3 linked regions of the Homo sapiens genome follow. The protein of the gene in region 1 purifies or fractionates together with the protein of each later gene. This does not show direct contact. Each region holds a gene or a part of one and is shown in the gene's direction. Other genes may lie near its edges.

Region 1 (3,650 bases):
TGCTCTGGAATCATAGGAATGGCAGGGACCTCAAGAGGATACTGAGTATTTTTCCGACCTTCCTTATGAATAGAGCAGCCCACTCCCAGATTATCATATTTTAAATATTACTAGGTAGTTGCCTAATTTTCATTGATTGTCTCTTGACTCTCAATCTTATACATCTGGATGTTTTTAACTCTGTTATTTTCTTTGTCTTTGGAAAGAGTGTGGAAAGAAAAGTTTGAACAAGCTGAAAAAAGAAAACTTCAAGAAACAAAAGAGTTACAGGTATTATTTCAACTTTCTAAACTGATTAGAAAATAAAAGAAATATGCCAAGAAATAAATATTGCCAATATGCCAATGCATGTAAATTTAATGTTTCAAATACTTACTATATACTGACTCTGTACAAAGCAATACCGTAAGGAAAATTAATATAAAGAAATGTTAAGATCAAGACTGGTTGCTTAGAGCCAGCCCATAAACTAGTTGGAAAGTTAAAGTATGAATAAACCATCTTGTTATATTTACTTTGGTTCTACAAATATATATTAAATGTCTATGCTTTTCAGGAACAGGGGAAGCCAAGGTGATTAAACACAGTTTCATCCCTCAGAGAGCTTGTGATCCAGAGAGAGATTTACAAAACGTAAATAGAAGACTGAAATGCAATGTGATTTCAGTAGATTGAGCCATAAGCAATTGCCATTTTTGTAGGTAAAGCATGGTTGAACACTGGCAGTTTCATATGGTTGAACCTAATGTAATGAAAAGTATTTCAAGTGATTGGTAGTGGGGGAGTACTATAAGAATTCAGGAGAAGAAGGGAAAATTCCTTGCGCATGGCCAATCCAATCTCATAAAAGAGGTGGCATTTGAGATGGGCTTTGAAGTTTGGGTAAGATTTTAATAGGAAGAGAAAAGGAAGAGCACATTCTTGGAAGAGAAAATTCTCTGAAAGTAAAGGTAGAAAAGTTTGAGTTGTCTTTAGAAAGGGTACGTAGATCAGTTTTACTGGAAGCAGTTTATATGAGATCATAAGGAGATACAATTGGAAAGATATGTTATGATTAGTTTATGAAGGACTTGATTTCCAGGCCAAGGAAATTAAGTTTTATCCTGTAGGAAGTGAGAAGCTGTTAAAAAGTGACCAGGGAATTTACATTTTGAGAGCACCCTTTCGAGAGAATTAACCTGGCATAGGATATAAGATGGATTGAAAACAGAAGCTGTTGACGGTGATCAAGAGGCTGCTTCAGTAGTTTTGGTGTGAGTTGACAGGGGCCTGTGGTGAAGGCAATGAAGATGCAACAAAACAAACTGATCTATTCTAAAGACGGTCAGTCAATAAGAAGACACAATTTGGTGATGATAGATTGATGTATGAGTAGACTGAGGATGGTGAAGGACAAAGAAGGTAGGGAGGTCACAAAGGAGAGATTCTAAGGAAGGAGGAGAGAGTCTAAAAAACCTTTATGGCCGGGCACGGTGGCTCACGCCTGTAATTCCAGCACTTTGGGAGGCTGAGGCGGGTGGATCACCTGAGGTCAGGAGTTCGAGACCAGCCTGATCAACATGACGAAACCCTATCTCTACTAAAAATACAAAAATTAGCCGGGCGTGGTGGCATGCGCCTGTAGTCTCAGCTACTTGGGAGGCTGAAGCAGGAGAATCGTTTGAACCCAGGAGGCAGAGGTTGCAGTGAGCCGAGATCGTGCCACTGCACTCCAGCCTGGGTGACACAGCGAGACTCTGTCTCAAAAAAATAAAAATAAAAAAATAAATAAATAACCTTTAATTTAGTGAGACTTCATATAGAATTGTTTTAATGTTTAATATAGACCATTTGTTTTAGGTGAATTTAACAATTTCATACTGTGATTAAGATTAATTTCTTTTTCTGACTTCTACCAGAAAGCAGGAATTATGTTTCAAATGGACAATCATTTACCAAACCTTGTTAATCTGAATGAAGATCCACAACTATCTGAGATGCTGCTATATATGATAAAAGAAGGAACAACTACAGTTGGAAAGTATAAACCAAACTCAAGCCATGATATTCAGTTATCTGGGGTGCTGATTGCTGATGATCATTGGTATGTTAATCCTCTAAAAAAAAAGAAAAGGCACCTGTTCTATATCTTGATAACATGTGGTTTCCTTCATATGGCATATTCGTTGATACTGATCGTTTGGTAGAATTCTTCAAACCCATTGTTTAGTCAGGAAAAACATACATTCTGAGTGTGTTATAAGGATGATAGGTCAGTTACTCTCAATATAAAGTACAGTGTAATGCTCTCTCTGTTTTTGTTTTGGCATACTTGATCTGTTGATTGAAGAATAATTTATTTTCTTGCAATTATAATGATGCACATGCAAGTAAACTATCTATCTTACATAACAGAATTTTTGGTTGGATTGACCAATTTAAAAATGTTACTTTATGTGAATTTTGTTCATATGAATGGAATACTTGTATATATTGTTGGAATGATAGCGTATGTAAACTTTTTTGACTCTGCATTGTGTTTCCAAGATTTGTGTACATTGGTTCCTGTTTTATTTTCACTGCTATGAAGTATTCCATTGTATGAGTTTATCTCTTATAAAGTTTAGGAAGTGCTTTTAAATTGTATGTCTGAGAGTAGAGATACTAGGTTGTAGAATATGTGCATATTCAACTTTAGTAGCTAATTTCAAATTATTTTCCAAAATGAATTTTTACTCCCATTGGCCTTGAGAATACCTGTTACTCCACATCGTTGCCAATACTTAGTACTGTCAGACTTTATGCCAATCTGATGAACACTAAATAGTATATCATTATGGATTCATTTTACATTTCTTTGATTAATAATAAGGTTGAACATCTTTTCATGTGTTGATTGGCCATTTTTGTTTACTATTGTAACTTGCCTCTTCATATCTTTTGTTGATTTTTCAACTGATTTGCTTATTTCTTAATAATTTGTAGGAGTTGCCAATCTTTCGTGAGCTTTTTGGTATAAATATCTTTTTTTCTAACGTGTAACATCTTTTTACTCTCTCTGGTGCCTTTGATTGATTGAAGTTCTTAATTTTATTGTAGTACCTGGCATCAGTCTTTTCCTTTATGATTGTCAGTTTTTATGTCTTAAAGAAAGAATGTTCTGGCTGGGCGTGGTGGCTTATGCCTGTAATCCTAGCACAGGTGTGTGGGCTCAGGAGTTTGAGTCCAGCCTGGGCAACATGGTGAAACCCTGTCTCTACTAAAAATACAAAAAATTTTCTGGGCGTGGTGGTACCTGCCTGTAATCCCAGCTACTCAGGAGGCTGAGGCATGAGAATCGCTTGAACCTAGGAGGTGGATGTTGCAGTGTGCCGAGATCATCATGCCACTGTACTTCAGCCTGAGTGACAGAGCGAGACTATGTCTCAAAAAAAAAAAAAAAAAAAAAAAAAGAGAGAGAGAGAGATAGAGTGTTCTGGCCAGGTGCGGTGGCTCACGCCTATAATCCTAACAGTTTGGGAGGCTGAGGCGGCAGATTACTTGAGACCAGGAGTTCAACATCAGCCTGGCCAACATGGTGAAACCTCATCTCTACTGAAAATACAAAAATTAGCCCGGCATGGTGGTGGGCACCTATAGTCTCAGCTACTTGGGAGGCTGAGGCATAAGAA
Region 2 (3,650 bases), on another chromosome or scaffold:
ACTGGACTGCCGGGTTCCAGCCACAGTGTCTGGCCCGGCAGGTCTGGGTGGAGCCTGAGAATTTGCATTTCACACATGCTGCTGCAGGCCTGGGGAACACTGACAACCACCAAGTTTCAGGGCATGTTACAGCCTTGGGTTTTATTAGCCTAAGGAAGTCAAATGGAATTATAGCAACATAAGCCACGTGGAGTAAATAAAGAAGGCAGCTTGGTAGTAATGTTAGAAGAAATGAATAACTTCAGTTTGAGGCAGAAGGGCTCCAGAAATTTCTCTGTGTTCTGCCCATCTTCTGTCCTTCTAACAAGATATTCGACCCGCAGCTCCTGGGGAAGGTCTTCCGAAGGCAGGCCACTCGCAGAGCGGGCTTCTCTGTGGGCTGATTTCCCCCTTTCTAGTGATTCTTGTGATTCACATCCTGCCTCTGTCACACGTGGCTCCTGCCTGTGGGACAGGCTTCTGCCTTGTTCTCCAAGGGGTGTAGATGCAGCATGAATTTGGGCCTTCACATGTGGTCAGTGGAAACGCTCTAGGAAAGTACGCATGACATGGTACGAGAACTTACTCTACTGAAGTAAAATGCCACACGGTCCCGTATTCGTTAGTCTTATCTCAGCATGTGCTTCTTTGTGAAATGTCCGTTTGTTGTGTGTTACCTGTGCCTATGACCGTTTTCATCTGTGGTGATGTGTCTTTCTCTTCCCCGGCCTTTTGCTGTCTCCCTCAGCTGCTGCAGGCACAGGGCAGCCCCTCGCCCCCTGCCCTTCCCTTGGCCTCGTCCTTCACAGCCCTGCTGCAGGCAGCCTACGAGAGCCAAGCGCTTCGGGACGAGCACATCCAGGTGCAGCTGCAGGCCACCATGCCACACCTGTCCATGCAGCAGGTCCTGCTCGCGGCCAAGCAGGTGTTGCTCTACCTGCGGAGCACTGTGGAGAACTTCGGCCAGGTCAGCGTTGCCCCCATCCTCCACAGGCTTCAGAGCTCTGCCACCAGAGAGCTAAGCCTTCTCTGAGTCGGGCCCACAGCCCAGCACACTCTTGCTCCCTGGAACTCACTGCAGAGGCAGTTTAAGTGCTGTTCTGTCCAGACCTCAGCTGCAAACTCTTCATGTCCCTCAGCCCTGCCCATGGGAGCCAGGTCAGCCTGACTTTGTTTTCAGGGCAGCCTGGTCAAGACAGAGCCCTTCCTACAGTAGAATGGGTTGGCAGCCCTGCCGGGCCTTTGTTTTTTTTGTCACCAAGTCTGGAGTGCAGTGGCGCATCATAGCTCACTACAGCCTTGACCTCAGTGGACTCAAGCCACCCTCCAACCTCTCAGCCTTTCAAGTAGCTGGGACTACAGGCATGCACCACCATTCCCAGCTAATTTTTGTGTTTTTTGAAGAGATGGGTTCTCACCATGTTGGTCAGGCTGGTCTCAAACTCCTGGGCTCACAGTGATCTGCCTGCCTCAGCCTCCCACAGTGCTGGGATTGCAGGCATGAGCCACCGCACCCAGCCCTCCCTCCCTCTTTTTTTTTTTTTTCTGAGACAGAGTTTCGCTCTTGTTGCCCAGGATGGAGTGCAATGGCAGGATCTTGGCTCACTGCAACCTCTGCCTCCCGGGTTCAAGCTGTTGAACCCTCAACAGCAACCCTCAGCTCACTGCAACCGTCAGCCTCCCTAGTAGCTGGGATAACAAGTGCACACCAACACGCCTGGCTAATTTTTGTATTTTTAGTAGAGATGGGGTTTCGCCATGTTGGCCAGGCTGGTCTTGAACTCCTGACCTCAGGTGATATACCCGCCACAGCCTCCCGAAGTGCTGGGATTACAGGCGTGAGCCACTGAGCCTGGCCCAGCCCTCCCTCTTAAGTGTATTAATTTAGTAACTGGCTGATGAATTTCTGTTCCTGATGTGGTTCAAGGGATTTTTAAGTTTTGAGGTGGGCCTGTCCCTTTCAGTTTAGTCAAAACAACCTTTGTGTTTCACCAAGGCTTAGGAAGACACATCTCTTATTTGAGAAATGGCATTGCATTGATGGGTGTCTCACACACTCTGTGAGGAGTTGCCATCTCAGCCTGCCTCCCGAGTCTCCTGCTCTGAAAACACGGGCCCTGGAAGTCACTGCCTGGTAGCTGTGAACCCGTCTCTTCCCTGCTGAGGCTCGTGCTCTTGTCCTCACAGCTGGGCAGAAGTGTGGGCCCGCCCCTCCTGCAGCTCTTCCTGGATCTCCTCAGGCGCCTGGTTGTCCACTGTGAGCAGCTGGATGCCCAGAACCAGCAGAGATGCGAGGCCGCCCGGGCCGAAGCCGACCTCTTCCTGGACATGGAGTCCGTGGCCTCGCTGGAGTTGGCCAATGATCAGGTACCGCCACAGGTTGCCTGGTAGCCTATTCTCAGAGTCATGGGCAGTGGCTTTCTCTTCACTTCTGATTAAAAACAAACATAGGTCCATTGTGGGAAAATTGGGAAATGCAGAAACTACAGCAGAGATCATAAAAACTTCCTGGCACCCGCCCAGCATGCGGTTTAATTTGGGCTTCTCTTTCCTGTTGCTTTTCTGTGTACAGTCACCCTCCCTGCAGACAGCTTTCTCTCACGCTGTGTGAGGTGAGCCTGCTGAGAAACAGTGTGAATAGCTGCAGCTTGTGTTGAGTGAAAGGTGGGCAGCAGGTGCTGCTTTTCACAGGAAATACACACAGGAAATAGACTGCTCTGAGAAGCAGCAGCCTTTCTGTCCTGTTGGGAGTCTTGGGAAGCAGGCTGTTTAATTGGGGCCAAGATGACTATTTCACAGTTTGCCATGTAACCTGTTTTACCGGGTTCAGGAGGCAGACACGTTCCTTGTTGCACAATCTAATTGAAATATACACTTTTTTCCTTTGAGCTCTGAGTTGCCTTTCTGGGAGGTATTTTCTTGGGTGGGACCACCTATTATTAGCCAGTCAGCGTGAGGCAAAGCATTCTCAATATGTAATCGTGCTTTGCTGTTTTTAACTGGTAAAGCTTGAGTGGAGACTGTGATAGGCTCCTCTTTCCTTCCCTAAGAATAAATAAGGAAAGAAAATTTCTTTCTGTCTCTGGGAACTGGTGGAGTGTCGTTGGCGAGGAATCGGTTCAGCAGGGCTGTGAGGAATGACTGAATGAAATTATTCTCTAATCCAGCAAGGGAGCTCAACTGCATTCTGCTCAATGTTTACTCAGTTGGCCAGGTCAGAACTAGTTTGGGGGTTTTGTGGGGTCACTCAAGGCCCAGTCTCCTCCTGACAGTGGAGACAGGATTACTTTCAATTCAGGATCGTAGACACACGGTGGTTTAATCCCAACCCACTTTCCCCGGACACATGGTCTCATCTAAACTGACATCACCCCAGCTGTAAGTAGACACCCCTGTCCCTCAACCAGATTTATCTAGGAGGGCAAGGCCGCTGAGGAGAAGCCAGCAGCTGATTGATCTTACTCACATGGTGGTGTTTCTGCACGGCCCGCCCCCCACACTGAGTGACCATAGAGAGCACTTTTCCCATGCTGGAAATTCACCCAGGCTGGGTTCTTCAGACACGTGCTCGCAAATGTGGGTGGGGCACCAGCCAGGTCACAGTCCAGTCCTTCCGGGGCAGGTGGAGTGTCTCAGGCGATTGTGGTATAACTGGATGACAGCTCTGGCTG
Region 3 (3,650 bases), on another chromosome or scaffold:
ATGCCCTCTGGTCTGCTGCCTACTTGGGGGAGTCCTTTACAGGGAGAGTCCAGTGGCCCAGGGGACATGTTTCAGATAACTCTGCACTTGCTTTTTTGTTTCTTGTTTTTTTTGGAGACAGGCTCTCACTCTGTTGCCCTGGCTGGAGGGCAGTGGCGTGATCTCAGCTCATTGCAACCTCCGCCTCCTGGGTTAAAGCGATTCTCTCACCTCAGCCTCCCAAGTAGCTGGGACTACAGGTGCGCGCCACCACGCCCAGCTAATTTTTTTATTATTTGGTAGAGACGGTTTCACTATGTTGGTTAGGTCACCCCTGACCTCAAATGATCTGCCCGCCTCAGCCTTCTAAAATGCTGGGATTATAGGTATGAGCCACCATGCCTGGCTTTCTTTCTTTCTTTCTTTTTTTAAGATGAGGGTCTCACTGTTGCCCAGGCTGGCCTTGAACTCCTGTGCTCAAACGATCCTCCTTCCTCAGCCTCCTGAGCAGCTGGGATTATAGGTGTGTGCCACGCACAGCGTGCCTTTGCCTCCTAAACCCCTGATACACTAACACTGTCTCGCTGTCCACATAGCCTCTGCTGGGTTGGGTGGGGGAACAAAATGCAATTAAGGGGAGGAGAGATGGGAGCAAACACTTTTTGGACACTTACTCTGAGCCAAGCACTATGCTAAGTATTTTCAATATACACTCTTTCATTTAATCTTCACAACTCGATGAGGGGCAATATATCTCCAGTTCACAGGCAAAGAAATGGAGGCTGTAAGAGGTTATGTGACCTCCGTCACACCATAGCTTGGCGACACACACAGGATTGTTCTGTTCCTGCTGCCTCAGATAGAGTCAAACAGAAGCATCGAGTGCAGTCACCCCGTGGTTCTCACAAGGCAGTCCGTAGGCTGGCTGCTTTAGGAAGCTCCTGGAAGCTGGTTATAAATCCCTGGACTGTCCAGAGCCCCAGTATCCAGGGTGGAGCCTGAAGATCCTTTCCTAACAAGTGCAGACTCTCTGAGAGAGCAGCTTGGGAACCATGGATCCCACTCATCTCACTGAGTGGGAGTCCTGTTTTCCACACTGTGGCCCCTGCCTGAATGCACCCAGTGACAGGGAACCCACTACCTGGAGAGTGGCTGTCTCACTGTTGCCACTTGTTGGATCATCCTTCACCTCCTGCCCACCCTGGGGTCTTTCTCGTAATAGAGGCAGTAAGCATGGCCCTGATGTGACTTGTGACAGTGACCTCCCTTCAGCCTAGACAAATGGTGGCTGCCACTCTGTGAACTCTCTGTGCTTCCTTCTCTCTATGTACTCACCCCGCCACCTCTGATCCTTTGGGGACCTACAGAGCACTCTGGTGCCACATGATCTCCTGCCATGCCTCACCTGCCATGCCCTCAGCATTCCTTGTCATTGTCCCTGAGTCCCTACACAGCAGGACCTTAGCCCTCCTCCAGTGTCCTCTTGTGCAGAAACAGTGTCTCCTGGCCACACAGCTAGTTTGGACTCATTGTGCGGGGGTGTCTGTGCAATGCCATCTCTGCTTCCCACCCAGATCCTCCCGTGCACATCGTGGACCCCCGAGAACATGTGTTCGTGCATGCCATAACTTCCGAGTGTGTCATGCTGGCCTGTGAGGTGGACCGAGAGGACGCCCCTGTGCGTTGGTACAAGGACGGGCAGGAGGTGGAGGAGAGTGACTTCGTGGTGCTGGAGAATGAGGGGCCCCATCGCCGCCTGGTGCTGCCCGCCACCCAGCCCTCAGACGGGGGCGAGTTTCAGTGCGTCGCTGGAGATGAGTGTGCCTACTTCACTGTCACCATCACAGGTGGGGGGCCAGGTGGGCCTCGGAGGCACAGGGGAAGGTGCCCCTGCTCCCACTGGAACAGCTGCCACACCTTCACTCCCAGGCCACTGTTCCCCGCCCCTACTGCCCTCCCCCTGGCAGATCGGACCTCCTCCCTTTCTCCTCAAGCTATGGTCTAGTCACATTCAGGAAACGTGTTATCATAAGCACATTGGTCTTGGCTAAGGAAGCCTGGCTTTCTCTATTCTCCTGAAAACCTGTACCAAGGGAAATCTCTGGGGACAGTGAGTCTATTGCAGGGTAGGGCAGAGTCTAGGGCTGGTGGTCTCAGGCACTAGGGGGGCAAAAACATCTTGGAGGAGGAGACCCCCAGCTCCTCCCCCCAACCCTCCTCTCATCAGTTCCACCCTTCATACCGTCCCTGTCCCAACCCAGAGAATGTGGAGCGTTTCTACAGCCGAGGCTGACCCCGTGGTCCCCTCTGTGCAGCTCCTGCGCAGCAGAAAGTCTGCTGTGCTTTTGTGACAGCTGTATTCGTGTGTCTCTAGCTGTGAGTAACTGTCAGCTGCTGTGAGATTTGGTCTCAGGAAGGTCCCTCTTCAACACATGGCCTACTTTCCAGGGGTAGGGAACACAACGGGGTCAGGGAGGACGGCAGGGCACACCCCTCATGCCCGGCAGTGGCTGTCCCTGTCCTCCAGACGTCTCCTCGTGGATCGTGTATCCCAGCGGCAAGGTGTATGTGGCAGCCGTGCGCCTGGAGCGTGTGGTGCTGACCTGTGAGCTATGCCGGCCCTGGGCAGAGGTGCGCTGGACCAAGGATGGAGAGGAGGTGGTGGAGAGCCCCGCGCTGCTCCTGCAGAAGGAAGACACTGTCCGCCGCCTGGTGCTGCCCGCTGTCCAGCTCGAGGACTCCGGCGAGTACTTGTGTGAAATTGACGATGAGTCGGCCTCCTTCACTGTCACCGTCACAGGTGTGGGCCCAGCCCAGCTCCCCGGGGTCACAGAGACAGCCCTGAGCCCTGGAGGAGCTGGCCACATAGCCCCAGCTAGCACCCCGGGGAGGAGGGAGGTGTGGGCTGCAGGTGCATGTGCCAGGGTTCTTGCTGAGATGAGCCCAGGGCCCCTATTCAAGGAAACAAGCCCCTCCCCGGTGCCCAAGGCCAGGCCTAGCTCTGCTCCACAGCTCATTTACTGAGCACTTTCCCTGAATCAGGCACTGGGAGTAGCAGGTGAGTAATGCAAATACGGTCCCTATTCTGAATGAGCTGCCAGGCTAGGTGAGGAGGCAGCTGTTAACCAGGGGTCGCAAACGGGTAGTCCTGGGGCCCTGCGCATTCCACACATGTGCTTTGTTTGGTCTGCAGAGTCTTACCAAAGTCAGGACAGTTCAAATAACAATCCGGAGTTATGCGTCCTCTTGAAAAAGCCGAAGACCCGGCGGCTCTGGTCCCGCTTCCCCCCATGGCGACGAACAGCTGGCACTGAGTAGCAGCTGCCCCCATAGTTTGGGGCCCACATTCCTCTGTCCCACCTCCCTGCCATTGCTTTTTGCCTCTCCCCAGACTGCTTCAGCCGCTAACCTAACCTGGCCCCTGTGGGCATTTGAGTTTGCGACCCCTGTGTTAAACCAATAAACATGCAAATAAATGTACAGTGACACCTGGTGATAAGTACTGTGAGGGCCAAGGGCAGAGGGCTCAAGAGCACAGAGCAGGAGGGTCAGGGAGGCCTGGGAGAAAGTCACCCTTCCACACACGGGAGCCAGCAGCACGCAGACACGGCCGCTTCCCTCTAGGACTGCACAGCCTGGCAGGAAAGCCAGACGCATTCCAGGATCTTAGA

The links.
Region 2: the proteins of KIF14 (region 1) and URB1 purify together in Homo sapiens (affinity purification with mass spectrometry; 2 studies listed by BioGRID and IntAct, with this or other methods). This does not show direct contact.
Region 3: the proteins of KIF14 (region 1) and OBSL1 purify together in Homo sapiens (affinity purification with mass spectrometry; 2 studies listed by BioGRID). This does not show direct contact.

What each region holds. Positions count from the first base shown.
Region 1 is NC_000001.11:200,596,670-200,600,319, reverse strand, and holds part of KIF14 (kinesin-like protein KIF14), read left to right. Parts: intron 1-206; coding exon 207-270; intron 271-1,898; coding exon 1,899-2,083; intron 2,084-3,650. UniProt on the Homo sapiens protein: Microtubule motor protein that binds to microtubules with high affinity through each tubulin heterodimer and has an ATPase activity. Plays a role in many processes like cell division, cytokinesis and also in cell proliferation and apoptosis.
Region 2 is NC_000021.9:32,348,000-32,351,649, reverse strand, and holds part of URB1 (nucleolar pre-ribosomal-associated protein 1), read left to right. Parts: intron 1-727; coding exon 728-946; intron 947-2,166; coding exon 2,167-2,346; intron 2,347-3,650.
Region 3 is NC_000002.12:219,561,531-219,565,180, reverse strand, and holds part of OBSL1 (obscurin-like protein 1 isoform 1 precursor), read left to right. Parts: intron 1-1,553; coding exon 1,554-1,826; intron 1,827-2,506; coding exon 2,507-2,779; intron 2,780-3,172; coding exon of another isoform or gene 3,173-3,297; exon of another isoform or gene 3,298-3,459; intron 3,460-3,650. UniProt on the Homo sapiens protein: Core component of the 3M complex, a complex required to regulate microtubule dynamics and genome integrity. It is unclear how the 3M complex regulates microtubules, it could act by controlling the level of a microtubule stabilizer.